2 separate regions of the Homo sapiens genome follow, and region 1 is linked to region 2. The links come from fine-mapping of genetic effects on gene expression. A gene starts in region 2. The other region holds a variant in brackets. All regions are shown on one strand. Distances are between the middles of the regions. Region 1 overlaps MPHOSPH9 (M-phase phosphoprotein 9). Region 2 holds the start of ABCB9 (ATP binding cassette subfamily B member 9).

What was found. PIP is the estimated chance that this variant, and not a neighbour inherited with it, causes the effect. A credible set is the group of variants that fine-mapping cannot tell apart.
Region 1: its variant is the best candidate, but not a certain one, in a credible set for the expression of ABCB9 in whole blood (INTERVAL, PIP 0.74).

The regions. Positions count from the first base shown.
Region 1 is chr12:123,184,840-123,187,747 of GRCh38, forward strand. All of the region lies in intron 13 of MPHOSPH9 (M-phase phosphoprotein 9), which reads right to left. Among named protein-coding and RNA genes, the nearest start is that of PITPNM2, 35 kb to the left of the region's middle. The variant CAA/C (reference allele first, on the strand shown) is at 1,388.
Region 2 is chr12:122,964,671-122,967,578 of GRCh38, forward strand. ABCB9 (ATP binding cassette subfamily B member 9) reads right to left here and starts at 1,793. Exons shown (of 12, transcript NM_019625.4): 1 at 1,617-1,793. RefSeq lists enhancers at 434-1,241, 1,242-2,047 and a silencer at 1,812-2,101.

The DNA of each region.
Region 1 (2,908 bases), 220 kb after region 2:
GTCACCCAGGCTGGTGTGCAGTGGTGTGATCTCAACTCACTGCAATCTCCACTTCTTGGGTTCAAGCAATTCTCATGCTTCTGCCTCCCGAGTAGCTGGGATTATAGATGTGCACCATCACACCCAGCTAATTTTTGTAGTTTTAGTAGAGACAGGGTTTCACCATGTTGGCCAGGCTGGTCTCAAATTCCTGGCCTCAAGTGATCCACCCGTCTCAGCCTCCCAAAGCACTGAGATTATAGGCGTGAGCCACCACACCCAGCCTAGTGCCTCTTAAATGTGAGCCTGCAAAAGAACCAACACTTGGAAAAAGACATTAAATATGAAAGATACTTCAAATGAAAACAAAAGCTTAACTCAGAATAATGAAAACTACAGAAACAGTCCAATGGAAGCCATAATATTCTCAAAGAAATAACAACATTAGATTCAAAACAGGAATAGAAAGCTATTAAAAATGATCAATCAGAAAAAGAGTTGTTAGAAACTAAAAAAAAAAAAAATATTGTTACAAAATTTCGGCATACCAAGGATAAAAAGATGATCCTAAAAAACTTCCAGAAAGAGAAAAAAAGAACCACATTAGAAAGGAATGAGAAACATGATTACTAAATGCAATGTGGGCCAGGCACATTGGCTCATGCCTGTAATCCCAGCACTTTGGGAGGCCAGTGTGGGAGTATCGCTTGAGCTCAGGAGTTGGAGACCAGCAAGAGCAACATAGTGAGACCGCATCTCTACAAAAAAATAAAATTAGCCAGGTGTGATAGCCTGTAGTGTCTGTAGTCTCAGCAGTCGGAGAGGCTGAGGTAAGAGGATCACTTGAGCCCTGGAGGTTGAGGCTGCAGTGAGCTATGAATATGCCTACTGTACTCCAGCCTGGGTGACAGAGTGAGATCCTGTCTCAAAGAAATGATAACAATAAATGCAATGTGTGATCCTTGATTGGATTCTGGATTAAAAAGCAAAAAACAATACATCTATAAAGGATATTATTTAGACAACTGGCAACATTTGAATATAGACAGAATGTATTTACATATTAGTATTATATCAATGTTAAATTTCCTGAGGATGAAAAGTACATTGAGATTACACAGGAGAGGCCGGGCATGGTGGCTCAAGCCTGTAATCCTTAGCACTTTGGGAGGCCGAGGCGGGTGGATCACGAGGTCAGGAGTTCGAGACCAGCCTGACCAACATGGTGAAACCCCGTTTCTACTAAAAATACAAAAATTAGCTGGGCATGGGGTGGTGTGCGCCTGTAATCTCAGCTACTTGGGAGGCTGAGGCGGGAGCATTGCTTGAACCCGGGAGGCGGAGGTTGTGGTGAGCTGAGATCGTGCCATTGCACTCCAGCCTGGGCAATAAGAGCAAAACTCCGTCT[CAA/C]AAAAAAAAAAAAAAAAAAAAAAGAGATTACACAGGAGAATATCTCTGTTCTTCAGAGATACCTATTGAGGTATTTAAGGGTAAATTATCATAGTGTCTAATTTACTCTCAAATATAGTTCAGCAAAAGAAAAAAGTTTATATCTCTATGAAGACAAAGCAATGCTGTAAGATACTCACAACTGGTAAATCTAGGTAAAGAATATACAAGGGTTTTCATTGTATCATTCTTACAATTTTTCTGCAGGCTTGAAACTTTGAAAGCCATGGGAGGGGAGAGAAAGGAAAAGAATTGATCATGTCATAGGCAATAAAACAAAGCCTTCAAATCTGAAGAAAACATACACCCAGAATCACAGTTAGGATCTAGATCTTCATCTTCAGCTAGGACCTAGATCTTCACCCACCACAATTATAGATAATATGTAAAATTTAAGAAATAACAATATCGAGCCAGCCACAGGGGCTCATTCCTGTAATCCCAGCCTTTCATGAGGCTGAGGCAAGTGGATCACTTGAGGTCAGGATTTCGAGGTCAGCCTGGCCAATATGGTGAAATCTCATCTCTACTAAAAATGCAAAAATTAGCTAGGCATGGTGGCACGCGCCTGTAACCCCAGCTACTCAGGAGGCTGAGGCAAGAGAATTGTTTGAACCCAGGAAGTGGAGGTTGCAGTGAGCCAAGATCATGCCACTGCACTCCAGCCTGGGCGACAGAACAAGATTCCATCTCAAAAAGGAAAGAAAGAGGCCAGGCGCAGTGGCTCTCGCCTGTAATCCCAGCACCTTGGGAGGCTGAGGCGGGCAGATCACCTGAGGTCAGGAGTCCGAGACCAGCCATGGCTAACATGGTGAAACCCTGTTTCTACCAAAAATACAAAAAACTAGCCGGGTGTTGTGGTGCTCGCCTATAATCCCAGCTACTTGGTAGGCTGAGGTAGGAGAATCACTTGAACCCAGGAGGCAGAGGCCGCAGTAGCCAAGATTGCGCCATTGCACTCCAGCTTGGGCAATAAAAGCGAAACTCTGTCTCAAAAAAAAAGAACGAACGAACAATATCAGTACATTATTTAGAAATACATAAATACTAGAATATGATATACCTCGAGAAAAAAATGAACAAAGGATGTAAAAGGCCTTAATTTTTAAAAAAGAAAAATACTTGAGATTTAAACCACGTTCATGTATGGGAAGAATCAATATTTCAAGTCTCAGCTGTCTCCAAATAAATCTGTAAATTCAGTGCAATTCCAATCGAAAGCAGAGTGGCATGCTGACAGTAATATTTGTATGAAACAAAACAAAGCCAAGAAATAGGCAAAATAATTTTTACAAGAGCAAAAAAACGAGATAAGGAAATGGCACCAAAAATCAACACTTGTTATAAAATACTAATAATTTACATGATGTGGTTCCAATTCAGAGACAGACCAATGGAACAGCTCAGAGCCTCAAAGGAGATTTACACGAGAAGGAAATAAAATGTACAACAGAAGTCAGTAAGGGAAGGAAAATCTATT
Region 2 (2,908 bases):
TGGGCTCGGCCAGGTGGAGCTGGAGGGCAAATTGTGAGCACATGGGTGACCTGCTTGGCCTGAGGGACAAGGACAAGGTGGTGGCCAGAATAGGCCCCACCCAGAACCGGACAAGGCCCAGGAAGACAGGGGTGGCTCGCCCTGACTCCGTGCACTAAAGAATGGCACAGGATAAGCAAGTGGCCTTGTCCCCACCAGGGGTCTTGTCAAAGGCTTTTCTTCCCAGGGTAGGAGACATTGGTTGGGGTATCTCTAGGCATCAGCTGCAGAGAAGGCCAGAAGACGATAGATAGCAGTTATTATGACGCTGCAACAGAGACCCTTTGCAGAGAAGGCCAGGAGACAATAGATAAAAGTTATTATGACACTGCAACAGAGACCCTTCACCGGGCCCTACTATGTGCCTGGCACCTCCCAAAGCAGCCAGGCCTCCCCACTTCCCTGGGAGGACCCTGTGGTCATCAGCTTCGTTTTACAGCTGGGGAGACAGAAGAGGTTAAGTGACACGCAGAAAAAGGACGAAGGCAGGATGGAGACCCGCATCCAGGGTCTCCAGGATGGAGACTCGGGGGTCCCCTGTCCAGGCTATTCAGGGATTGCAAGAAAAGGGGCCAAAGAACTTGGGTGGCCCAGTGGCCTCGGTTCACCCCTGACATGGTGAGCTTTTTACCCCGGTGTGGGCCCAGACCCAGATAAGCCCATTCCATTCGCTGCGCAGCAAAGCACTGACTGACAGAGGCCTGCTGGGTGGGAGGGCCTGACTGTGGGGGTCCCTGGCTCTGGGGCAGGAGCGGGCTGGGTCTGCGTGGGTCCATCCTGATTTCATCCCTGCTGAGCCTCTGGCAGCCCACGTGGGGCCCAGCCTCACTCTGGGACTTGAGAAGCTGTCTCAGGTGCTCTCAGCTCTAGGAGAGGCAGAGAGGCGCGAGGTGCCCTCCCTCCAAGCCTCCTCTTGTCACCCGGCCCTGCACTATCCGGAAAAGGGGAATGGGCAGAGGCGGGGATCCTGTCAGCCCAGCTTAAAGCTGTCTCAGTTAATGTCAGGCCGGGGGAGGAGGCTTTTTTTTTTTTTCCAGAGGCCCAGAAATAAAAGAGGCTCCCCTGGGAACCTACAGGCCTCACTGCCAGCGTGGATGGCGGGGAGCAGCGGCAGCCCACTGGCCTGCTGAGGAGACTGAGAAAAGGGCTTTGCCCAGGTCAGCAGGAACAGGCCAGATCCCCCAGGCTTCTGCCAAAGCCCTGGTGCTCAGGATCCCTGGGAAGCCCTGACATGGACAGTGGGAGCCCTCAGAAGGCGCGCCAGCCCCGTCCTGGGGGAACGACAGCCATCCCAGGATCCTCCAACACCTCCCACATTTTCCAAGAGGCAGCGGCGCCTTGGGGGTTAAAAAAAATGGCAACATTCGCCCTACGGGCGCGGAAAGGATGCTGCAGGGATGGGGGCTGGGAGCTGCGGCTGCGGGCTCCGGGAGGGCTCCAGGGAGGCTCCCACCTTCAACCGAGATGCCTATTCCCACCGAGGCAGGGGTGCCCAGACGCCCCCCAACGCGTGCCTGGCCTGGCACCCTGGCCTGGAAAGGTCCCAAAACCAGGGGTCTAGGGTGCCTTGCCCTTACCTGTTACCTGGCACCAGGTGAGCTCTGGGAGGGGGCGCGCAGCAGGCTCGGGTCTGGGGTGCAGTTTCCGCGCTGCTCATTGAAGACTGCGCCGGACGCGGTCCTCGCTCCGCTCTTCCCGCTGCTCCTCCCCGCCTCCCACCCGCGCTGCGCCGCTGCAAGGTCGGAGCTGAGACTGGCGTGCGTTGAGACAGGCTGATGGACGGGGCGGGGCCTCAGTGACGGAGGGGGCGGGGATCCTGGGGCAGGGACCGGCGGAGCCTCCCGGGAGGGGCGGGGCCTCAGGAGGAGTGGGCGGGCTTTCCTGGACGGGGCGGGGCCCCCGAGGAGGGGGCTGGCGAAGCCTCCGGGTGGGGACGGGCCTCCTGGGGGCGGGGCCACAGCTGGCCACCTGCTCACCTGTGGCAAACTCCTCCCACATCTGGCCAACCAGGCCCTCCACACTGCGTGCTGGCCTCCACCTGGAGCCACGGGCCCATCCTGAGGGGACGGAAATGGTTTCACCTGAAGGAGGCCAGCTTTTTAACTGGCCTTTTTCCCTGGAGGGACAGCCAGCCAGTCCAGGAGGGTGGGTTATGGTCCTCATTCATTCACTTATTCTTTCATTCGTTCACCCAACAGATATTTATCCAGTGCCTACGGCGTGCCATATGCCCTTTTAAGCATTTGAAATTAAACAATTAACAAAACAAGATCCTTGCCCTTCTGGAGCTGACATTCTAGTGAGGGTGTCAGACAACACATATAAGCAAATGAGATATATTGGAAGGGAATACATTTTACGGAGAAAATTGGTGCAAGATCAGGGATTCGGGGCATTGGAGAGGGGAGGCAGCGATATGTCCTCAGTGACTGCCAGGTGCTGGGAACACAGCTGTGTGTGAAAAGACAGAAAACTCCCAGCCTTCATGGCGTGAAGGGGACAGAACATCAGCAAGTAAGTGCATAAGGCCATTCAGGTACTGGATGCAGTAAAATAAATAAAATTGTGTAAGTGAAAGGTGAGAAGGCGTGAGCCACGGGGAGGGAGGAACATCCTACGCTAAGGCCTGCAAGTTCAAAGGCTCTGAGGTGGGAACCAACTTGGCCACTTGAGGACCAGAAAAGGGTCCATGTGGCCTGAACCGTGGGAAGTGGGTGGGGGAGTGGACTTACGGCCCAGAGGGGCAGCAGGTGGGGCTAGAACTGCCCACATCCCTGGATCCTCTGATCAGAGGCTTTGTTTTTTCCTGAGACAGAGACTCCAGGATGGAGTGCAGTGGCGAGTTCTCAGCTCACTGCAGCCTCTGCTT